7 linked regions of the Homo sapiens genome follow. The protein of the gene in region 1 purifies or fractionates together with the protein of each later gene. This does not show direct contact. Each region holds a gene or a part of one and is shown in the gene's direction. Other genes may lie near its edges.

Region 1 (3,500 bases):
GGAGTTCAAAGGTGCAGTGAGCTCGGATCACACCACTGCACTCCAGCCTGGGTGACAGAGCGAGACCGTGTATGATAAAACAAAAACAGAAAACATCCAGAGGTTTGTATAGAAGTAGTTATCTTGCAGGTGTTCAGAAGGACCTGACTGCCAAAATAAGGCAGGCCCTCATTATTTCAGGTGCAGTCATTTAAGTTTCTTATTGGCTATGGTTTTTTGAAGAAATAATTTTTATAGATTTATAGGATGGTGTTCACAAAGACTACTGTATTTGAATTTTTCTATATATTTTCAATTCTCATACATCCGTATTAGAAATTATGTATTGTATTTATGGTCAGATTTATTGGAGACTGCTGCAAAAAACAAATTACTGGTATGGTACACTCAACCAATCTCAAAACGAATCCAAGGGCACCAGAATATAAGTTGCACAAAGGCAGAAATCTTTGTCTTTTTTTTTTTTCTCATGTGTGCTAAACACCTGGAAGGGTACCTGCATTTAATGGGTGCACCATAAATAATGAATGAAGGCAGGCAGGTAGGCAGACAGGTGGTACAATCAGGATCCCCTTAATATGAATTGGGGGTAGTTTATGTAAAATTTTTCCTTTTTACCTACTTTCTGATCATTATATGAAGTAGATTGGGATCAGACTTACCAATATTAGCTGTGGCCGGGCGCAGTGGCTCATGCCTGTAATCCCAGCACTTTGGGAGGCCAATGCAGGTGGATCACCAGAGGTCAGGAGTTTGAGACCAGCCTGGCCAACATGGTGAAACCCCGTCTCTACTAAAAATACAAAAATTAGCTAGGCATGGTGGTGTGTGCCTGTTGCCCCAGCTGCTTGGGAGGCTCTGAGGCAGGAGAATTGCTTAAACCCGGGAGGCGGAGGTTGCAGTGAGTTGAGCTCGTGCCACTGCACTCAAGCCTGGGTGACAAGAGTGAGACGCTGACTCAAAAAAAAAAAAAAAAAAAAAAAGAATGTTAGCTGTTTGGCTTAATAGGGCAAGACTGCTCTTAGAAATTGAAAGGTTGGGGCTGGGTTTGGTGGCTCACGCCTGTAATCCCAGCACTTTGGGAGACCGAGGCGGGCAGATCACCTAAGGTCAGAGTTCGAGACCAGCCTGGCCAACATGGTGAAACCCTGTCTCTACCAAAAATACAAAATTAGCTGGGCGTGGTGGCGCATGCCTGTAATCTCAGCTACTCTAGAGGCTGAGGCAGGAGAACCGCTTGAACCAGGGAGGCGGAGGTTGCGGTGAGCCGAGATCGTGCCATTGTAATCCAACCTGGGCAACAGGAGCAAAACTCTGTCTCAAAAAAAAAGAAAAGAAAAAGAGAAATTGAAAGGTTGTTTGAAAAATAGGCTTAAGAGAGTTACTGCTTTTGGATGAGAAGATTTCAGTGGTTGATTTGACCATAACCATCTTGGTAGTATGAGCTCAGGAATGCGTTACTTATTAGTGATGTGGGAATTACATGGATTTGTCCCCAAAGCACAAGCTTTTAGTGGGCTGCTTCTATACTGGATGTGCTACCTTTTGGTGTCATTAATCCTTTCTCCACCACAGGCTTACTCATTTTTTAACAGGGAATATTTTTCACTGGGAATTGGAGTCTCTCGGCTCCATGTAAGAAATCAAGTTGGTAAAGGCTCTTGTCCCTAAGAGAGGTATAATACATACATTTTGTTGTCAGGATGATTTTGCTAAGTTTTGGAAGAGTAGGTTGGTTCCACTAACCTGCATTTAAGAAATGATTGATTAGGCTGGGTGCTGTGGCTCACACCTGTATTTCCAACACTTTGGGAGGCTGAGGCAGGAGGATAGCTTGAGCTCAGGAGTTCGAGACCAGCCTGGGCAACTTAGCGAGACCCCATCTCTACAAAAAAAAGCTTTTAAATAAAAAATTAGCTGGGTGCGGTGGTGTACACCTGTAGTCCCAGCTACTCAGGAGGCTGAGATGGGAGGATCACTTGAGCCCAGGAGTTTGAAGCTGCAGTGAGCTATGATTGTACCATCTCACTCCAGCCTGGATGACAGAGTGAGATTCTGTCTTAAACAAAAAACCCCAAAAGACCATCCAGAGTGCTTGTCTCGGTAGCATATATACTAAAATTGGAAGGATATGGAGAAGATTAGTATGGTCCCTGCGCAAGGATGACACGCAAATTTGTGAATTGTTTCATAATTACTATTTAAAAAAAAAAAACCTCTGTAGGTATTTCTCCAAAGAAGCTAAGCAGATGCCCAATAAACATATGGAAAGATGTTCAGCATCACTAATAATTAGGGAAATGCAAATCAAAACCACAGTGAGATGTTACTTTGCGACCATTTAGGATAGTTATAACAACAACAACAAACGACAAAAGCAAGTGATGAGGTTGTAGAGAAATTGGAACCTTGGTGCATTGCTGGTGGGAATGTGAAATGGTGCAGCCACAGTGAGAAACAATAGGGTGGTTTCTCAAAAAATTAAAAATGAAATTACCATATGATCTAGTGATCTCACTTCGAGTTATATCCAGGATAATTTAAATCAAAGATTCAAACAGGGCCAGGCAAGGTGGCTTATGCCCGTAAATCCCAGCACTTTAGGAGGCCAGATTACTTGGGCTCAGGAGTTCAAGACCAGCCTGGGCAACATGGTGAGATCCTGTCTCTACCAAGAAACCCCCCAAAATTAGCTGTACATGTTGGCGCATGCCTGTAGTACCAGCTGCTTGGGAGGCTGAGGTGAGAGGATCACTTGAACCCGGGAAGCGGAGGTTGCAGTGAGCTGATGATCATGCCACTGTACTCCAGCCTGGATGACAGAGCAAGACCCTGTCTCAAAACAAACAACAACAAAAAAGACTCAAACAGCTATTTGTACACCAGCATTCATAGTAGCATTATGCACGATAGCTGAAAGGTGGAAACAACTCACATGTTCATCAGTGGATAAATGGATAAACAAAATGTGGTATACACATAGAATGGAATATTATTCAGCCTTAAAAGGGAGGGAAATTCTAACATGCTACCACATGGATACGCCTTGAAAATAGTTTACTAAGTAAAATGAGTTGGACACAAAAGGACAAATAATGTGTGAGGTACCTATAGTAGACAAAATTAGTGGAATAGTGGTTACTGGGGCCTGGGGGACAGAGTAATGGGGAGTTATTGCTTAATGATCACAGAGTTTTAGTTTGGAAGGATGAAAAAGTTCCAGAGAGGAATAGTGTTGATGGTTGTATAACAGTGTGAATTAATTTAATGCCAATGAATTGTACACTTAAAAATGTTTGAAATGCATGAAAAGACAAATACTATGTGATTTCATTTATATGAATATGAGGCTATCTAAAGTCAAATTCATAGAAACAGAAATAATGGTGATTACCAGGGGCTGGGGAAGAGGGAAATAGGAAGGTGTTTAATGAGTATAAAACAACGCATTACAGTTTTGCAGAATGAAAAGGCTCTGGAGATCTGTTGCACAATGGTGT
Region 2 (3,500 bases), on another chromosome or scaffold:
CGAGATGTGTATAAGAAATTTGATTTGGGTCAAGACGTTATAGATTTTACTGGTCATGCTCTTGCACTTTACAGAACTGATGAGTAAGTATTTTGGTTTTTAGATTTGTATTTTTCTTGAAATTCTCACTAAATTTCCCAAGTCTTCCAAGTGGAAATTCTAACAAAACAAATACTTAGCCATATTGCACTATGAATGAAGAGGTTCTAGTTGAAATTAGTGTTGGGACCTTTTAAGTGATTTAAATATAAAGGTAGTGGGCCAGGTGTGGTGGCTCACGCCTGTGATCCCAGCACTTTGGGAGGCCAAGTTGGGTGGATCATTTGAGGTCAGGAGTTCAAGACCAGCCTGGCCAACATGGTGAAACCCCCTCTCTACTAAAAATGCAAAAATTAGTTGGGCGGTAGTGGTGCGTCCCTGTAATTCCAGCCACTTGGGAGGCTGAGGCAGAAGAATCACTTGAGCCTGGGAGGTGGAAGTTGTGGGGAGCCGAGATTGCACCACTGCACTCCAGTCTGGGCGACAGAGTGAGACCCTGTCTCAAAAAACAAAAAAACAAAAAAGAAGATAGCGGATTGAAATCGCTTCAAAAAAAATTATAAATTGAACACCATGAATGAAAACTAAAGCCCTTTCCTAATACTCATTTCCTTTCTTCCAGTTACTTAGATCAACCGTGTTATGAAACCATTAATAGAATTAAACTTTACAGTGAATCTTTGGCAAGATATGGCAAAAGCCCATACCTTTATCCACTCTATGGCCTTGGAGAACTGCCCCAAGGATTTGCAAGGTAAGAGCCTGTGTTTAAAACCTCAGTGATCCAAAACCTCATCTTCAACATAATGTGTATATGAGATATAGTTTAAATAATGAGATGAGATCAGTCTATGAGTAATAAGATGCTTTTTATTTTTATTGAAATAAAATTAACATATAATGATATGCATGGATCTTCAGTTAAAAAAAATCCAGTTTTATACAACTGTAGCTGATGTGCTCTTGTAAGTGCCAACTCCTGGCTGGAGGCCAGCCAATACAAAACCAGCGCACTTAACAAAAATACAACCAAGGACCTTCACAGAATCTACTTCACACCCCTGTTACCTCCACCAGAGTAAGTGCTGGTATCCACGCCTGAGAGACCTGGAGACAGATCACATCACAGGACTCTTTGCAGACACTCTCCAGTACCAGCTTAGAGCCTGATTATCTCCACTGGGCGGCTAGATCAAGAAGAGAAATAACAATCACTGCAGTTTGGCTCTCAGGAAGCCCCATCCCTAGGGGAAAGGGGAGAGCACCACATCAAGGGAGCATCCCTGTGGGACAAAAGAATCTGAACAGCAGCCCTTGAGTTCCAGATCTTCCCTCTGACATAGTCTATCCAGATGAGAAGGAACTGGAAAAACAACTGGGGTAATATGACAAAACAGGGTTCTTTGACACTCTGAAAAGGTCACACTAGCTTACCAGCAATGGATCTAAACCAAGACAAAAATCTCTGAATTGCCAGAAAAAGAATTCACAAGGTCATTATTACGCCAATCAAGGAGGCACGAGAGAAAGGTGAAGTCCAACTTAGCAAAACAAAAAAAGTGATACAGGATATGAATGGAAAAATTTCCAGGAAAATAGCATAAATAAATAATCACAACTTCTGAAAATCAAGGGACACACTTAGAGACATGCAAAATGCACTGGAAAGTCTCAGCAATAGAATTGAATAAGTAGAAGAAAGAAATTTCAGAGTTCGAAGACAAGGCTTTTGAATTAGCCCAATCTGACAAAGACAAAAAAGAATTTAAAAAAATGAACGCAGCCTCCAATAAGTTTGTTAAACAACCAAGCCTAAGAATAATTGGTGTTCCCAAGGAAGAAGAAGAATCTAAAAGTTTGGAAAACAAATTTGAGGGATTAATTGAGGAAAACTTCCCCGGCCTTGCTAGAGATCTAGACATCCAAATACAAGAAGCTTAAAGAACACCTGGGAAATTCATCACAAAAAGATCATCACCTAGGCACATAGTCATCAGGTTAACTAAAGTCAAGATGAAGGAAAGAATCTTAAGAGCTGTGAGTCAAAAGCCTCAGGTAACCTATAAAGGAAAACCTATCAGATTAACAGATTTCTCAGCAGAAACTCTAAAAGCTAGAAGGGATTGGGATCCTATCTTGAGCCTCCTTAAGTTATCAGCCAGTAATTTTGTATCCAGTGAAACAGAGCTTCATAAATGAAGGAAAGTAGTCTTTTTCACACAAACAAGTGCTGAGAGAATTTGCCACTACCAAGCCAGCACTACAAGAACTGCTAAAAGGAGCTCCAAATCTTGAAACAAATTCTCAAAATACCAAAATTGTATCTCCTTAAAGCATAAATCACACAGGACCTATAAAACAATAACACAATGAAGAAAAAAAACAAGGTGTTCAGGCAAACAAATAGCACGATGAATAGAATAGTACCTCAAATCTCAATACTAATGTTGAATGTAAATGGCCTACATGCTCCACTTTAAAGATACAGAATAGCAGAATGGATAAGAACTCATCAACCAAGTATCTGCTGTCTTCAAGAGATTCACCAGACACAAAAGGACTCAAATTTAAGGTAAAGGGGTGGAAAAATATATTTCATGTAAATGGACACCAGAAGCGAGCAGAAGTAGCTATTCTTATATTTTTTATTTTATAACTATATATATTTTAAAAAAAATCAGTTTGATAAATTTATAGACCTATCCCTGTCCTGGGTTTAACTAAAACCTGAGTGAAGGTATAGAACATTTTCCTCACCCCATAAAGTTCCCTTGTGTCACCTCATAATGAATACTGCCCCCCATCCCCAGCAACCACCTCTGTGATTTCTGTCACTATAGATTACTTTTGCTTGTTTTCAAAGTTCATGTAAAAGGAATAATACAATATGTTCTCATTTGTGTCTTTTTCATTTTTTGAGATTCATCCATATTGATGCATGTGTCAGTAATTCTTTTTTTTGGAGATGGAGTTCCACTCTTGTTGCCCAGGCTGGAGTGCTGTGGTGCAGTCTCAGCTCACTGCAACCTCCACCCCCTGGGTTCCAGTGATTCTCCTGCCTCAGCCTCCCAAGGAGCTGGGATTACAGGCATGCACCACCACATCCGGCTAATTTTTTATATTTAGTAGTGATGGGGTTTCACCATGTTGGTCAGTCTGGTCTTGAACTCCTGACCTCAAGTGATCCACCCACCTTGGCCTCCCAATGTGCTGGGATTACAGGTGTGAGCCATTGTGCCTGGCCAATTCTTTTTTTTTAATTGTTGAGTAGAATTCCTTTGTATGAATTATATGAGCATATAATTCTCCTTTTGGTGGACATCTAGTTAGTTTTCAGTTTTTGGCTATTATGAATGAAGGCACTGTGAAATTTTTATGTAAAACACTTTCTGTGGGGATATAGGTTTTCATTTCCTTTTGGGTAAATACTGGGAGTGAAATTGCTGACTAATGTGGCAGAT
Region 3 (3,500 bases), on another chromosome or scaffold:
TATCTGAAAAAATAGATTTTAAAACATAATTACAATATACACTGGTGTTCTAAAACAAACTGCAAAAATAATCATGTACTTGTTTACATTCAGAATATATTTACATCTTATTGTTTCATTTTTTTGTATGATCTCAAAACCAATATAAGATTTTCTAAAATCTATAACGTCAAGATAATGTAATGAAAGAACAAAAATAGGAAAGACAAAATTCTAGCGGTAGTTTTTTTCTACAGGGAAAGGAATGTGTGAGTAATTTTCAACAGATACTAGAAATTTTTGCGGTCATGATCTAGCCTTTACTTTAGGCCCTTTCCTGAAGGATTATTTCAGGGAGGTGCTTTACTACAATTCCTAAAATGTCAAACTTAAGTTCATTAATCATTTAACAACTGAGTGAATGACACTTAAGAGTAATTTCTATGAAGAGTGGGGAGTTATTACAAATGAAGATATCCAGAGGATTCTTTTCCTTGACACTTTTAATAAACCTTTACATGGCCAGAGAAGTTTACTATGTTCTTACTCCAGGGCATGTCGTGACTTTAACACTGTTTCTAGTTTCCCTGCTCACGATAATTTTTAAGACTGATAGCTTTCTACTTTACTTACCTCAAGGGACAAGGCTGTGCTCCCACTGAGACTTTCAGAGAGCTAGCTAGTGCCTCTTTTCCCCACCAGAGCCCAAGAGTGCTATTGCTGTGTCTGGCAGGTAGTTTTCTCTACCCCTGGCGTAAGTAGGGCAGAGTTGCTGTATTTACCTTTTTCCTCAGCAGAGGATGACAATAGAAACCTTCAGAGAGTAAAAAGCAGTCCAATAGTATAGGTACTGTTTGAAATAACTGGGTGGAAGCTACAGAATTTAGTAAACACAACAAGCTCATGTTTTTGTTTATGCTGTGGTATATAAGCACCCAAACTAGGGAAAATAGGGATAGTTACTTAAAAACAAATGTAGCTCGATTTTTCTGTAGTGACAGTATGGTCTTAGTCTTATTGAATTTCATGTGAACAACACATAGACACATTTAATTTGGAGGTTAAATATGATTTTTAAAAATTCATGGTGATTTTATATTAATTAGCTAGAATTTTACTAAGGTTTAAAAGTGATGCTTGGCAAGCATTGTGCTTCCATAGCCAATTGATAGTTATGATATAATCATTTAAATAGGTTGAAAGAATATTTAGAATACTTTTGTGGATGATTTTTATTATGCAAGCAATTTATCTTGGAAGAATTTATCACCAGACTATTTGCCATTTTAGGGATTCTGTCATTATTTTGTTCCATCATGCTTACACAAAGGGACTTTTAAAAAGAATGCTCCTTTCCATATGTATTGCCAGCCAACATCTTGCTCCTCATAACGGAGGCAGTTTTGTATCTTGACTTCTTATTTTTTTCAATTTCTTTTCATCATTAGTATGAGTGTGTGAAAAGCTTATTTTGTTGTAAGTACTCAAGGACTCTAGAGATGGGAGTTACTTCCTGAAGATACCGTCACATCCGTTCTTCCATCTCTGCTTTGAATTGCAGCCACAACTGTACTGATATCAGAGATCACTGATGTGTTCATTAGGGAAGGGAGGCTTCACCCATATTATACAGTTCATAATAGAGAGAACATTTGCTTCCAGGAGCTTCTCACAAGAAAACAATTCAACCTTCTAGGGTTTAAAGACGAATTAGCCTACTGTTATGTTATCTTTGTGCTGAACACACTCTGTATCTGCCAGCAATGCTTATTTTATTTGCTTTTCATATCAACATAGCCAAAATTAACCATAAGAATTTATTTTTTTTCTATGTTAGGTGAACCTTTTTGTGCTTTAAGTTCAATTACATTTTTCTTAGTGGCTCTAGCAACTGTTAGACACAACATGAAATTTCTTCAAAGATTTAAACGTGTGAATTTATTTAGTTACTTTTTCTTAGTATACATGTAAGTTATGCAACTTTAAATTTTAGCAAATGTTTCACTGTTGCATTTAGTAGATATTATGATTTATACTATTAAAATATTATAAGATAGTTTTCATTTTTTTCTGAGCAACTTTCCCTTTAAACCTCCTTCGGGGTATGATTATAAATTGAGAATCAGTAAAGAGGTACACTTTACTAATCATATTTAATTATGTGGACTTGGGTTTATGAACGTGCCTGTTGAATAATGAAAGAAATTTAAATGCACTGGAAAGATATATTACTTATTATTTGTATCATAGGTTCATTTAAGAAAATTATATTCAACTATATCTGCTTGATCAAAAACCACAAACCAAAACAACATCACCACCACAAAGCAAGATAAATAGTATTTGTAATTCTGCATTATTATACTCAATGCACCTATGTCCTATAGTGAGCAGGAAACCAGCAGAATGCATTTAGTATGATTTTCAGGTGATAATCTTATCATTCTGAATATAATTCTTGTGTTTAGCAGATAATTCACTTCATTATTTAGAAACAACAATTGGGCTCCGGAAAAGAACTTTCAAATAGAGTCTCTTGTAAGTACAGTGCAAATTATTGCAGATCATTAGCACTACATGAAGAGTACTGAGCATTTGCAGGGTCTGTGACAAATTTTCATTTTATCATTTTGTGTAAAGGAGTAACAAACTATGAATTAGGCTGACACTATATATTTTAGTTGTAGAAATAGTGATAATAAAGAAAAAAGTCTGCATGCACTATGAAAATTATATTTTCTCTAAGTACTTTTCTTCTAAAAATAATTTTCTTTGTGAAGGCATCTGGATGTACAACTTACCATTAGTTTTACAGGAAAAAAAAATCAGGATTCCTGGTGCATCCTGGAATTTTATGTTTTTGCAAAATAAACCTTCATGGCTCTGTTAATTCTATTTGTATATATGTGCTACAGAAACTATTCAAGGGACTTTGTAGAAGAATATATATAGAAGTAAAGAATATATATAGAAGTTGATTATTTTTGAGTTGAGTGTTTATCTGACACATTTCACCCAACTTTGATAAGATTGATTTCATGACTCTTTCAAGTTATGTTAGTTAGTTTTCTCATAGTATTTTTCTATTTTGTCTAATAGTTGACCACGCAGTTAAAGCAAGGAAGCAACATTACTCATGCTTTAAATTTACAACTTATAATTTTATTTATATAAACCTAATTTTATTTTCAGGTCACTAGCTGTAACTCTAAAAACATAAGGCTAATTTTACATACATACAAAGTTAGTAAATATTTATAAATTTTAGACTATCAGCTTTGTTGTATACAGTTATTCAGTATTTTTTAAAAAGTGCTGCAACAAACATCTTCGCACCTTACTCTTCATTGTTTTGGCTAAAGTTCAGGGAATGGAATGACTGCCTATGAACATTCTAGAGATTCTATACATATTGATTTGACCAATTAATACTGCCTCCAGTTTACAGATTTCTTAAAATGACACGAATAACGTAGGTTCTCCAAGGTTGACATTCCTGTTATGATATTTACAGGCTGTTT
Region 4 (3,500 bases), on another chromosome or scaffold:
AGCCCTATTTTAGTGGAAACATTTAAAAATAGCACTTGCTTAAAATGTTCTTTTATTCTGTAAGCATAATTCAAGGACCATGGCATTAGGGAGCTCCTATCAAATTAGTGTTTTTTAAAATGGCCAGAATTCTAGAATATTTGTTTATTCATTTGTTCAGCATGTCATTATTGAGAGCTGGTGTGCCAAGAAAATGAATGTGAGTTATTTTTAAAGTAGGGAGGCAAAATAAAAAGATTGTCTTAGGTCTTAGTCCATTTGTGCTGCTTTAAGAAAATACTATAAACTGGGTGGCTTATGAACAACAGAAATTTATTTCTCACAGCTCTGGAGGTGAGAAGTCCAAGATCCAGGCAGATTGAGCATCTGGTGAGGTCCCTCTTCTGGGTTCATAGATGATACCTTCTTGCGATGTACTCACATAGCAGCAGGGAGACAGCAGCTCTCTGGGGCTTCTTTGATGAGGTCACTGTAGGAGTCTATTCTTACGTTGCTATAAAGACATATCTGACACTGGGTAATTTATGAAGAAAAGAGGTTTAATTGGTTTACGGTCCTGCAAGCTCTACAGGAAGCATGGCGCTAGCATCAGCAAGGCCTCTGGGGAGGCCTCAGGAAGCTTCCAATCGTGGCAGAAGGCAAAGTGGGGAGCAGGCTTCTCACATGGTGGGAGCAGGAGCAAGAGTTGGGGAGAGATGCCACACAATTTTAAATAACAGATCTCATGAGAACTCACTCACTGTGGTCAGAATAGCACCAAGCCATGAGGGATTGATCTGCCCCCATGATCGAAATACCTTCCACCAGGCCGTACCTTCAACATTGGGGATCACATTTTAACATGAGACTTGGGCGGGGACAGATACCCAAACTGTATCAGTTACTAATCCCATTCATGAGGGCTCTGCCCTCATGATCTAATCACCTTCCAAAGGAACCACTTCCTAATACCATCATGTTGGGAATTAGGTTTTCAATGTAGGAATTTTGGGGTAACACAGACATTCAGTCCATAGTAACCTACATTTGGTAACATAGATGAATTTTTTAAACAATGCAAATCTCTGTCTTTCCATCTATCCATCCATTCATTCATTTATGTACCATTTTTTTCTTGGCAGGATTTGGCTCATTTGTGGAAAAGACTGTGATGCCTTACATTAGCACAACACCAGCTAAGCTCAGGAACCCTTGCACAAGTGAACAGAACTGCACCAGCCCATTTAGCTACAAAAATGTGCTCAGTCTTACTAATAAAGGAGAAGTATTTAATGAACTTGTTGGAAAACAGCGCATATCTGGAAATTTGGATTCTCCAGAAGGTGGTTTCGATGCCATCATGCAAGTTGCAGTTTGTGGAGTAAGCGCATTCATTTCCTATCAGGGGATATTGTTTCTATTATGTGTGTGAATTTTAAGTGTGATTTTACTATGATAATAGAAAAATTGACCTTAATTTTCATAGATTTGATTATCTTAGAGAAGTAATTTTAAGTAAACCCTTAAATTGCCTGTATACATAAAGTGCCTTTATAAAAGCATATTTAATCTTTATGCAAACCACACAGTTAGTTTATTCATGCGGGCTTTTAAAAGACAGAATGCTAACCATTTGAAACAGCGGGGCAACCTCTCTGTACTGTAGCTGGTGGTCTGGATTTTAGAAAAGCCCATGTGTCCTAACTTTCTGGCTTTGTACTAGAGATAGAATTGATGTTATTATCTGAGGCATCACCAGGAACCTTGAAATTGCTCAAAGGGAGAGTGTCTTGTATCATTTTCCTTTGGTCAGTTTTCTTCTCACTGTCTTTGAAAGACACATCTTTCTCCTGTGTCTTAGTAATTCAAAAAGAGAGAACTTTTTAAGCTCTAGTTTTTAACCTATATGAATAGATGTATTTTGAGAAGTGATACAATATTTGTAATTTTAATTGTAAGATTTTCAGTAGCAAGCCCATCCCTATTGGTTCAATAATTTGTATTTTATGATCCATGTAGCAGCTATGTATTTTGAGATGACACTTTAATGATGTGGCTGAGGCTGAAACTAGAAGACATTGTCATGTCAAGTTTGTCCTGCGTACCTACTCTTGTCTCATTTTTGTTCCCTCCAGTGCCCCCATTCTCTAGATGACCTTCTTTGATTTTAGAGGCCTCTTAGTGGTTATTTTTCAGTCAATTTTTGCTAAGGTGCTAATTGATGCCCAAAATAATAAGTGAAGGAATATGGATAGTAATTAAGAATTTTTCTATCACCACTGATGCTGGGCAATTTACTCAGCCTCTCCAGGGCTGTTTTCTTCTCTTTAAGAAGGGATCATGATAGTATCTACCTCATAGGGCTCTTGTGAAGTTAAAATGCATCAATCTCTATAAAGTACCAATGAGCATTCAGCAAATACTAATTCCTATATTGTTATTACTTTCGACTTTTCACTAGAGTGTTTGCAATTTAAGGTTAGTCCCTGCTGTTATAGCCGAAGCAAGTAGCATTCCAGGTAGTACCTAGCCTTACACCTCTTTTCTTACTAGCCATTGATGTGTGAGCCTGTTAGCAGCTCGTTGTGGGGAGGGCATTCTCTGGGCTGCCTCTAACTAGGCCTTAACCTGTGGTATTAAACAAGCCATAACACCCTTGATTGTGGCTGTTTTTCTGTGTTGGTCATGCTGATCCACTCCTCTAGATGCAAAAGAATCAGACATTCCACTTTTGAAAGATTGCCAGTATTAATAAATGTGATTCCCACCTTAAAGTATTTTACTGTCTTATGAAGATCTAAACAGACGTATTAAATAAATTAACGAAAGCAGGTAAATTCCTATAGTCCTATGATTTTATAATTATAAATTACCATAGTGACAAGAAGATTTTACAGTTACTTTAGATTCTTTATTGGAAAGGGCAAGGATAAAGTAAATGAGTGCATAAACAGTACTGATTGAGGAGTTAGAATGGGTGAAATTATCCTTAAACAAGATACTTATTTCTGTTATAAAAAAAGGAAGCCTCATATGGTGGGCTGATAAAGAAGGTGCATGGCATAGAACATAGAGCAGAGATGGGTGGATGGGGACAAGACAGCAGCAGTGGGGTAAAGTAAGGATAGGCTCAGACACTTTCATTTATTCAGCAAATGCTCATCAAGGGCTTACTGCTTGCCAAGCAGTGTGCTGGCTTGCTAGCTGCTGGAGATATGATGATAAGCAGAACTAAACCAAACCAAACAAAACAAAAAAACAGTTTTTAAAAAGAACTGAGAGATTGAGAGATACGGATGGTCAGGCAAGATATCGTTGTACATGGGATGGAAGAGCTTCATTCAGTGGGCTTTGTGTGTTTCTCAGCAAGATAATTACCATTGTATAAAGAGAAGACACAGAAAATACAGAATTAGGTTAAAAATACAATGGTGGCCTATATGAAAATTAAAGGATTTTTGTTGAATTACTGTGAATAGTGTTTTAAAATTGAAATCCTTTTCTTTTCAAGTCACTGATTG
Region 5 (2,829 bases), on another chromosome or scaffold:
ACGCTGACCGCTCTCCTCTTCTCCCATGCTCCTCCCATGTCCCCAGCTGTGGTCCTGCACCGAGGCCAGCTCCTGGGGCTCCGAGGTAAGCCCAGCCACCTCGTGTCCCCTCACGGGAGCCTCTCCCACTCTCCACCTGTATGCGGGCTCAGCGCCTCTGGGTTCTCTCCCTGCAGCCAATAAGACATCCCCCACCTCTGGGGAGGGCGCCCGTCCCGGGGGCATCATCCACGTGTATGGCGATGACAGCAGTGACAGGGCGGCCAGCAGCTTCATCCCCTACTGCTCCATGGCCCAGGCCCAGCTATGCTTCCATGGGCACCGCGATGCCGTGAAGTTCTTTGTCTCGGTGCCAGGTGAGGCTGGGCCCCTCCTGCCATCCACATCCCCTGCATGCCAGTGGCCGCCGCCTCCCCCAGGAGGCCGCTGTCCTGAATCGCTTCTGCCATCCCAGGGAACGTGCTGGCCACCCTGAATGGGAGTGTGCTGGACAGCCCAGCCGAGGGCCCTGGGCCAGCTGCCCCTGCCTCGGAGGTCGAGGGCCAGAAGCTGCGGAACGTGCTGGTGCTGAGCGGCGGGGAGGGCTACATCGACTTCCGCATTGGTGAGCGGGGCCCAGGGACAGGGCTGAGGTTGGGCGCGGGGGGAGCCTGGCCGTCACTCTGCTGCTTTGCCCGCAGGAGACGGAGAGGACGACGAGACGGAGGAGGGCGCAGGGGACATGAGCCAGGTGAAGCCCGTGCTGTCCAAGGCAGAGCGCAGTCACATCATCGTGTGGCAGGTGTCCTACACCCCCGAGTGAAGCTGCTGCCCTGCCTGGCCCGACCTGTACATAGGACCCCCGACCACCTGACCCCCGCCCGGCCCGCGGGGTAGCCAGCCAGGCGCCGCCGCCCCTCTTCTAACCTCTCAACCTGCAGCTTTCACCTGAGTCTGGCCCCTCCAGCGGGCAGGGAGTGCGGGGATGCGGATCAGCTGGGAGGAGGAGGGGAGGGGAACTTCCACCCGAGGGGAAGATGCTCTCGGGACAGTTTCCCGGGCAGCTCCTGGCCAGCTTCCAGCCCAGAGTCCTCAAGTCCAGGGCACCTTGGGCCCAGCGCAGGCAGAATCCGAGGTGGTCCTGGCTCTACCCTGGGCCTCCTACTCCCCAGCACCCCTGGAGGAGGCAGGGGCTCCCCGCCGCCGAGGCTGCCTGCCCTGGGCCCACCTCTGCATGCTGCTCATGGGGCCACCCTGCCTCCTGGGCCCTCACTCTGCCTAGGGGAGCTGGGCCAGGCACTAGCCTTTGCCCAGGGAGGTGGGCCTCAGGCTGCCCAGGTGCCTGCACCCCAGCCGGCCTTCTCTGGGGCCTCCCCGTCGTCAAGCCTCTATCCTGTCTGTCCCCACCCCAGCTGTCCCCTGCCCAGGGAGCTGGCATAAAAGCACGAGGCCCGGCTCCCTGGGGCAGCTGCTTGAGAACAGAGACTGCTACCCCATCCTGCCCATGCAGGCAGGCTCTTGCCAGCCCCGTTCTGACCCGTGTCCCCCCAGGCTCTGCCTGGGCAGAAGACTCACCTTGGAGGAGTGGGCCCTGGAGTCCTGTCCCTCCCAGAAGCCCCCAGGGTGGGATTTCTCAGGCTGCCAGGGCAGGCCCAGGCCTCAGGAAGAAGGGGAGGCCCCTGGCCTCTCCGGGATCAGTCCTAGGACACAGGCTCAGCCTCAGGTTGATGGGGGATGATGTGCTCCCGGGGCCTGCCTCCTGCACGGGGCTCCACGGAGCCCAGCTCCCAGACACGCTACTAAGTGCCTAGGGTTGCCCGCTGTGGCCTGCTTCCAGGGAGCAACAGAGAGGCCACCAAGCAGAGGCCCGTGGGGCTGAGGATGGAGCCGCCCCCAGCCGACTCCAAGCCCGCAGAGGGCAGACGCCACCCTGGACTGCTCTCCCTGCCCAGCTGGGCCTCTCTGGCCTATTCCTACCTTCCAGGCCCACTGCACTCCTGTCTGGGAGGCCCTTATGAGGGCAGCCCAGCCCCCGCACCCACCCCCAACCAGAGAAGCACAGATCTTGGGGAGCTGCCCCACAAGCCCCGCTGGCCACCGAGGGCTGCAGCCGCTGCGCTGCCGGCTTCTCCCCACCACCCTGCCACCTCCACTGTGATGTATGTCCGCTCCCTCGTCTGTTCCCCCAGGATCTCGAAGTGACTCCGGGCTGAGCAGTGGGGCGGCTGGGGGAGGGGTGACGATTCTCCTCAGGCTTTGGCCCTGCAAGCAAACCCACATATCTGCTCTGTATGTAATAAATGTCTTAACGTCGTAGCTGCCTGTTCCTGGGCCCAAATCGAAACGAAAACGAGGACTTTATTATAAAAAAACGTTGGACCACGTTGGGCTGGGCACCAGGACAGTGTCCTGGCACGTTTCCAGGCGAGCCGCGCAGGCTCCTGGAGCAGCTCCTCGGGCAGGAAACCCTGTACGCCAGGGATTGGAGAGGCCTGCGCCACCCTCCATGCAACGTCCAGACAGGTGGATGTTCAGCAGCCCGTCCAAAGGGATGCTCCAAGCGCTGTGGGGTGGGGCCAGAAGCCCGCCCACCTGGGCCCTGGAGGAGGCTGGAGTGTGAGAGCCTCTGTGACGCGCATCTGCCGGGCTACTCATACAGCCAGTGCCCAGCGCTGTCCTCCCAGCAGAGGAGCTCGTCTGCGCGGAACCAGAGAGCGATCTCGCGGCGGGCACTCTCCACCGAGTCGCTGCCGTGAATCAGGTTCCTGCGCGGAAGAGGCGCGTGTGAGCGTGGGAAAGAGACCTCCGGCACGGGTACCACGCAGGCTGAACAGGGGGAGGCCGGACGGG
Region 6 (3,500 bases), on another chromosome or scaffold:
CAAATGTGGAGACCCAGCTAGTATTTCTCTACTTTTAGTTTATTTTTTGAAGTTTTTTTTTTTTCCCCTCTGACTGTTCAAAATTCTCTGATCCTGGAAACACCAGGGTGGGGTTCACATATCTATAGTGTCTGTAGAGTGGGAAGATTTGTGACATTTGATTGTATGTCTCTCTCTGTAAACTACTCATCTGAAAAGAAAAAAGAAAAAAATTTCAGGCAAGTAAGGATGATACTTATCTGAATAGATGTCTTTTTTGTTTTCCTGAAAGTTTTGAGGTTAATAATCTTGATTTCAAAAGAGCATCAGTTATAATGCTTTTCTTTTCTTTTTCTTGAGATGGAGCCTCGCAGTCTCCCAGGCTGGAGTGCAGTGGTGCCATCTTGGCTCACTGCAACCTCTGCCTCCCGGGTTCAAGCGATTCTCCTGCCTCAGCCTCCTGAGTAGCTGGGATTACAGGCGCCCACCACCACACCTGGCTAATTCTTTGTATTTTTAGTAGAGATGGGGTTTCACTGTGTTGGCCAGGCTGGTCTCAAAACCCTAACCTCATGATCCTCCTGCCTTCGCCTCCCAAAGTGCTGGGATTACAGGCATGAGCCACTGCACTCGGCCTATAATGCTTTTCAAAAAAGAAATCTCATGGTTGGAAGTTGACGGGGCATACCCAATTTTTGGAAAAGTACACTTTATTGGTTAAAATGTCATTATAATTAGCAAATGACTATACAAAATGGCATTCTTGTATTCAATATTCAATATTATTTTGTGCTTGAATGAATCACCCAGTTAGTTTTCTGACCAAAACACAATCCTTTTTAAAAAATTTGTTTACAATTTCAGTATGTTATGTAGTTACAGATGAGTAAGTCAGAGAATTAATTTCACAATGAAGTAATTAACACTTTCAAAGGACTGTACTTTAAAATTTCAAAGTGTGATGTTTTCTATTGGTGTAGAATGAGCCTAAATAAGGAGTAAAAAGACACGAGCCCTACTCCTTGATCTGCCAATGACAGATGACTTTGGGCCACCATGTTATCTCTCTGAGCCTCAGTTTCCTTATGGTGAGAACACAGTAGTCTCCCCCTTATTTTCAGGGGATGCATTCCAAGACCCCCTGTGGATGCTTCAAACCATGGTTAGTATCAAACCCTATATATACTGTTTTTTTGATCTGATAACCAAGCCTGCTACTAAGTGACTTGTGGGTGGGTAGCATCTACAGTGTAGATAGGCTGGACATAGGGATGATTCATGTCCCAGGCTGGACAGTGAGATGGCAGGACAGTACAAGATTTCACCACAAAGAATGTCATTATAACTAAAATAGATAAGGTATGTGAACATGCTTCATAAGCTGAAAAGCGCCACACAAATGCCAGGTTTTGTTCTAGTGGCCTTGTCTAATGTGTCGAGACACAATCTATACTGCCCTCCGAGGTGGTGTTGAAACAGTGGAAATGCAACGAGATCTGCTTTGTTTCCCAAACTGGATTTGGTTAGATTGGAAAATAAACTAAACATGCTTGAGCAGAGGCTTTGAAAAGAATAAATATTAAATTATGGAAATGCCTTCTTTATTTGACTTTCTGGTTGGAATCAGCCTTTAAACACATCTTAATTTGAATAGAGTTATGTTAGGACCCTTTATAAGGCAAATTCAGCTAGTTTTAACAATTGAAACTACCTTTTTGGTTTTTATTGAACCACGTGTGTACATTCATGTAGGGATACACTGCTAACTAGCTAGATTGGCGGTCCTCAACTAGCCATGATTTTGCTCCCAGGGGATATTGGCAATGTCTGAAGACATTTTGTTTTCCTTTTTTTGGTAGAGACTGGGGTTTTGCTGTATTGCCCAGGCTGGTCTTGAACTCCTGGGCTCAAGCAATATTCCCGCCTCAGCCTCCCAAATGACTGGGATTACAGGTGTGAGCCACCACACCTGGCCTGAAGACACTTGGTTGTCACAAGTTGGAGTGTGGTATGCTGGAGTTCTGGCAGCATATGTATTGAAGCCAGCAATGCTGCTGAACATCCTGCAGTGCACAGGACAGCGCCCCACAGCAAAGCATCTGACCTGAAGTGTCAGTGGTGCTGAGGTTCACAATAAGCTCCTGTGCAATGAGGACATTTAAAAGAAATCAAAATGTTGATAACGTTATTGCTGGGTCTTTGATATGTTGCCTTAGGGTGGAAGAAGTATGTGTAATTAAAGGAACTAAGCTTTCTGCCCACCTTGAAGTTCAAGATTGTTTCGTATGGCATCCAAAATGAGGGAGACTTTCTTTTTCTGAATTAAAAATTTTCATTTATTTTCCTTTTCTGTAACAACTCTTCTCTCAAGGTCCCCCTGCAGTAGCAACTTATACGGTTTCTTATACGGTAGTGTGGCAGCCTTTTGGGGAAGGAGGCACATGCAGAGGAGCTCACAACTTTTGCTTTAAAAAGCCAAGCACTACAGGATGTAACGTAAATGAAAGATGCAGTAACCTCTGGAGTCACCGTGACTTCCCTGTCAAGCTGCCAGCAGTTCCCTAGGTTGGAAAATGGGCATGGTCATAACCTAACCACTTCTGAATAGGTTTCAGAATGACCATGTTCAAAAAGAGATGTGTGGCTGGATGCGGTGGCTCATGCCTGTAATCCCAGCACTTTGGGATGCTGAGGTGGGAGGATCACTTGAACCCAGGAGTTTGAGACCAGCCTGGGCAACATAGTGAGACCCCGTGTCTAAAAAAAAAAATAACTTAGCTGGGTGTGGTGTTGTGTGGCTGTAGTCCCAGTTCCTTGGGAGGCTGAGGTGGGAGGATCACATGAGCCTGGGAGGTGGAGGCTGCAGTGAGCCCTGATATCATGTCACTGCACTCCAGCCTGTGCAACAGAACAAGACCCTGTCTAAAAAAAAAAAAGATGTGCAAAAATATTTTAGTCAAAGGTAATGTCTGACTATGATATAAATAATAGCAGTATAGTAAAGGATGAGCATCCCCAATGCAGAAATCTGAAATGCTTCAAAATCCCAAACGTTTTGCATGCCTGCATGATGTTCAGAGGCCATGCTCTACAGAAATGCTCACTGGAGATTTTGGATTTTGGCTCTTCAGATTAGGGATGCTTAACTGGGCATAAGGACATATTCCAAAATAAAAAAAAATGTAAATCAGAAACACTTCTGGTCCTATTTCAAATAAGGGATACTCAACCTGTATAAAATATCCAGTGTGTATAAATGAAGCATATGTTAAGCCCTAGGAGGAGCTCTGCCTGTTTGAGTTTTACCAAAAATAAGGTAATATTTTATGGTTTTTTTTTTTTTTTTTTTTTTTTGAGATGAGGTCGCTCTGTCACCCAGGCTGGAGTGCAGTGGTGCCATCACAGCTCACTGCAGCCTTGACCTCCTAGGCTCAAATGATCCTCCCACCTCAGCCCCTCGAGTAGCTGGGAACACAGGCATGCGCCACCACACCCGGCTAATTTTTGTATTTTTCATAGAG
Region 7 (3,400 bases), on another chromosome or scaffold:
AAAAAAATGTATTTCTAAGTCACAAATCTAAAGAGATTGTACCAGTTTATAATCATACCACCAGTATATAAGAGTACCTATTCTACAATAGTTTCTTTCTTCATAACTAATTTATACCCAAAAAAGATCTGATTTTGTTTTGTTTTATAAGAAAGACTAAAATACTTGTCTGCTATTTGGCAATTTATAAATCCCCACTGTCCAGATTGAAAGTGCTATCAACACTCCTAATTCATTAGTAGTTCGAGGGTTTCTCTAAAAGAGACAGACTTGGGACAAAGTTGGAAATCAACCTGCATTTTCATACAGCCGCTTAAGACATTTAAGTTTGACTCCATCTACTTAGAACAATTCAAAATGTGAATCTTGCAACTCCAGTGGTCGTTATGATCATTTAGTATTGCCCACAGGGGAAGCAGAATTACAACCCAGGATGGAACAACCTTTTGGTCATTTCTGTTCCCATTAGTATTGTTAGTTTTGTTATGCTGAGCACACTACAAAGTTGCATCTCTTGTATAAGTACAACACAATTTATTAAATATTGTATACATAGAACCAAGAATCGATAGGATGCAGGGCTGCTTGATTGTACCAGAAACAAAACATGATGAGAATACATTGAAACACTGGATTTACTTAAGAAAAACCTAAGTTTTTCAAATCTAATTTATTTAAGAAAACGTATTTTCTTAATAAGTGTAACACAGTTCTTACAAGGTATGGTAATAAGCAGAAAGTAGAATTTTGAATATTAATGTCAAAGTATGTTTTCTGCCATTTTGATGGAGTTGATACTTTTTCTTGTAAGTTCTTCCTGTAGTGAAAGAGAGAAAGTGAGGTGTCATTGCCGAAAGGACACACTAATAACCTCTTGGTAGTTTATTGCAGGTAAAATCATTTTTTAATTAAGCTGACAACGTGGTAAAACTGCAGCATTAAATTGTAATTATGTTTAAATGGAAGTCTTTCTGTAGAGTGTTAAAGGATGATAAACGTTTGAGGTTCAAATAACTCGACTGTCTTATCAAACACCATGTCTATAAGTAATAAGTTTCTGGGAGAATTGTGAATTGGATTTTGTTTTATTTCAAGTGGATGCTTTTGTGCCCATATTTAAGCTGCCGTTGCTTACAAGACCTGTACTGCCCTTCCCCACCTGCCTTTTCCATCATACCCTATGCTCACAGACAAATCTCAGCAAGAGGCAGGAGTTGCTTCACTAATCAAAACCTTACATTAAAATAGTTTTACCTAGATCTAAGTTCTAGTCCCAAATCAAAAAGCAATCTGTGGAGTTTTCAGTATAATTTCGTACTGACAGCTTTCCAAATAGTAACGTAAACGGTTCACGTACTTGGTGAACTGAAGAAATAGAATGGAGGCCATTAGCACTGTAAGTTGTTAGTTTGCCTGTTTACCAAAAATATGTTGAGTTTCGGGGCACATACCTTAAAATTGCCCTGTTTCACTGTGTAAGAGGAACTGGCTTGACTACTTCACCCTTGGTGAAAACAAACAGGCCCTAAAAGAGGCAGCAACAGCTGAAGTGGATATCACAGAAATAAACAGACAGCAGAAGCTCTTCAGACACCCCCGAAACCTGCCAAAACTCACAGGTAATACAAGTGAAACGATAGCATAAGAAGAAAATAAACATGAGAATCTTCAAACTACAAGCATTGAACGGTATCCTCCATCCAAGAAGAGAACCCACTTCATACAAGGAAAAGGCAAAAGGAAAAGGTCAAGACTGTGACCTTTATAACACTGTGACCCCAGCTGTGGGCCAGGTGGAGTTGTCTGTGGTGACACCAAGTACAGGCCTGACACCCTGGTTTGACAGAAGGCTCTTCAAGATCCCTGGTCTTCACACTGTAGCAGCCAAAAGGTAGGTTTACAATATACACTGTCCCCAACTTGCCATGGATCAATTATAATTTTTCAACTTGACTATGGAGGAAAACCATCGCAATTTCAGCTTCCAGTCATGGGTCACATAACGATGGGGATACATTCTGAGAAATGTGGTGTTAGGTGGTTTCATCACTGTGTGAACCTCAGTGTTCAGACAAATCTAGATGGTATAGCCTACTACACACATGGGCTCTATGGTATAGTCTATTGCTCTTAGGCTACAAACCTGTATAGCATGTACTATAGTACTGAATACTGTAGGCAGTTATAACACAAAGGTAAGTATTTGTGCATCTAAACATAGGAAAGGTACAGTAAAAATACAGCACAAAAGATAAAAAAATGGTATGCCATTTTTATGGCATAGCTCCTGCTTTCGAGTGAGTCAGTGAGTGAGTGGTGAGTAAATGGGAAGGGCTGGGACATTACTGTGCACTGCTGTAGATACTAAACACTGTAAACATAGGCTACGCTAAATTTATTTTTTTAAAATTGCACTACAACATTATGTTGTCAGTAAGTAATAGGAATCTTTCAGCTCCCTAATAATCTTAACGGGACCACCATCATATATGTGGTCCATCATTGACCAAAAACATCATTATGTAGTACATGACTATACCTTGAATTTCGATCTTTTCCTAGGCTAGTGATATGCAGTACATGAGATAATCAATGCTTCCTTACAAAATGGGCTTATGTTAGAAGACTTTTGCCCAGCTGCAGGCTATTGTAAGTGTTCTGAGCACATATGAGATAACCTGGGCCAAGCTATGATGTTCGATACGTTAGGTGTATTAAATGCACTTTTGACTGCCATCTCAGTGGATGACAGCCTTCTCACTGACAGCAGAGAGATCTTCCTCACTGTGCCAGTGGGCAGGAGAAAGAGCATGCTGCGACTGGCCAGTGACATGCAGAGGATCCAGATTGCACAACCGGATCCAGAGGCCTTGGGAAGCATTAGGGAGCTCTCCAGCTGTCTCACTCAAATCTGTAGCAGCATATGGACCCACAAATGGAGGCCAAAGTGGGCCCTCAATTGGACACTTTGGCAACCCTGAAGAGACTTCTTCCCTTCAGACTTACTGTTTTAGTATGTTCCAGAGAAGGGAGTGGCATTCTTCTTGGGGAATTCAGGAAGAGGGAGACACGCTGTTACTCTATCCATTAAATAAAGCTTTGATGTTCACAGCCCCCCGCCACCACTCAGAAAAAAAAAATAATTGCCTTGCTCTCTAAAACTGACTTCTGCCTTTTATTGGACAGGAACAAGCTGAAAGCTGGATACCTAATGTCAGTGGAGTCTTCTGAGTGTTTCCTGGAAGAAGTCGGGTCCCAGGCTCTAGTTGCTGGTTCTTACATGCCACCATCCACAGTCCTTCAGCAGATTGATTCAGTGGCTAATGCTGATATCATAAATGTAAGTAAATGAAAACTTAACGATTTAACAACAGAGAACTTAACCTTAATGATCCAATTT

What was found.
Region 2: the proteins of RAB10 (region 1) and GDI2 purify together in Homo sapiens (co-immunoprecipitation; 3 studies listed by BioGRID and IntAct, with this or other methods). This does not show direct contact.
Region 3: the proteins of RAB10 (region 1) and HCN1 purify together in Homo sapiens (co-immunoprecipitation; one large-scale study listed by IntAct). This does not show direct contact.
Region 4: the proteins of RAB10 (region 1) and ITGB1 purify together in Homo sapiens (affinity purification with western blotting, with the first as the bait; one study listed by BioGRID). This does not show direct contact.
Region 5: the proteins of RAB10 (region 1) and MAPK8IP3 purify together in Homo sapiens (co-immunoprecipitation; one study listed by IntAct). This does not show direct contact.
Region 6: the proteins of RAB10 (region 1) and LGALS3 purify together in Homo sapiens (affinity purification with western blotting, with the first as the bait; one study listed by BioGRID). This does not show direct contact.
Region 7: the proteins of RAB10 (region 1) and UQCRC2 fractionate together in Homo sapiens (co-fractionation; one large-scale study listed by BioGRID). This does not show direct contact.

The regions. Positions count from the first base shown.
Region 1 is NC_000002.12:26,040,584-26,044,083, forward strand, and holds part of RAB10 (ras-related protein Rab-10), read left to right. Parts: intron 1-3,500. UniProt on the Homo sapiens protein: The small GTPases Rab are key regulators of intracellular membrane trafficking, from the formation of transport vesicles to their fusion with membranes.
Region 2 is NC_000010.11:5,782,435-5,785,934, reverse strand, and holds part of GDI2 (rab GDP dissociation inhibitor beta), read left to right. Parts: coding exon 1-83; intron 84-661; coding exon 662-793; intron 794-3,500. UniProt on the Homo sapiens protein: GDP-dissociation inhibitor preventing the GDP to GTP exchange of most Rab proteins. By keeping these small GTPases in their inactive GDP-bound form regulates intracellular membrane trafficking.
Region 3 is NC_000005.10:45,689,881-45,693,380, reverse strand, and holds part of HCN1 (potassium/sodium hyperpolarization-activated cyclic nucleotide-gated channel 1), read left to right. Parts: intron 1-3,500. UniProt on the Homo sapiens protein: Hyperpolarization-activated ion channel that are permeable to sodium and potassium ions. Displays lower selectivity for K(+) over Na(+) ions.
Region 4 is NC_000010.11:32,923,731-32,927,230, reverse strand, and holds part of ITGB1 (integrin beta-1 isoform 1A precursor), read left to right. Parts: intron 1-1,121; coding exon 1,122-1,360; intron 1,361-3,490; coding exon 3,491-3,500.
Region 5 is NC_000016.10:1,768,023-1,770,851, forward strand, and holds the end of MAPK8IP3 (C-Jun-amino-terminal kinase-interacting protein 3), read left to right. Parts: intron 1-46; coding exon 47-85; intron 86-176; coding exon 177-356; intron 357-454; coding exon 455-604; intron 605-680; coding exon 681-802; 3' UTR 803-2,329; downstream 2,330-2,829. Other genes in the region: NME3 (nucleoside diphosphate kinase 3), read right to left, coding at 2,627-2,744.
Region 6 is NC_000014.9:55,132,252-55,135,751, forward strand, and holds part of LGALS3 (galectin-3), read left to right. Parts: intron 1-1,100; exon of another isoform or gene 1,101-1,103; coding exon of another isoform or gene 1,104-1,141; intron 1,142-3,500. UniProt on the Homo sapiens protein: Galactose-specific lectin which binds IgE. May mediate with the alpha-3, beta-1 integrin the stimulation by CSPG4 of endothelial cells migration.
Region 7 is NC_000016.10:21,977,361-21,980,760, forward strand, and holds part of UQCRC2 (cytochrome b-c1 complex subunit 2, mitochondrial precursor), read left to right. Parts: intron 1-3,186; coding exon 3,187-3,340; intron 3,341-3,400. UniProt on the Homo sapiens protein: Component of the ubiquinol-cytochrome c oxidoreductase, a multisubunit transmembrane complex that is part of the mitochondrial electron transport chain which drives oxidative phosphorylation.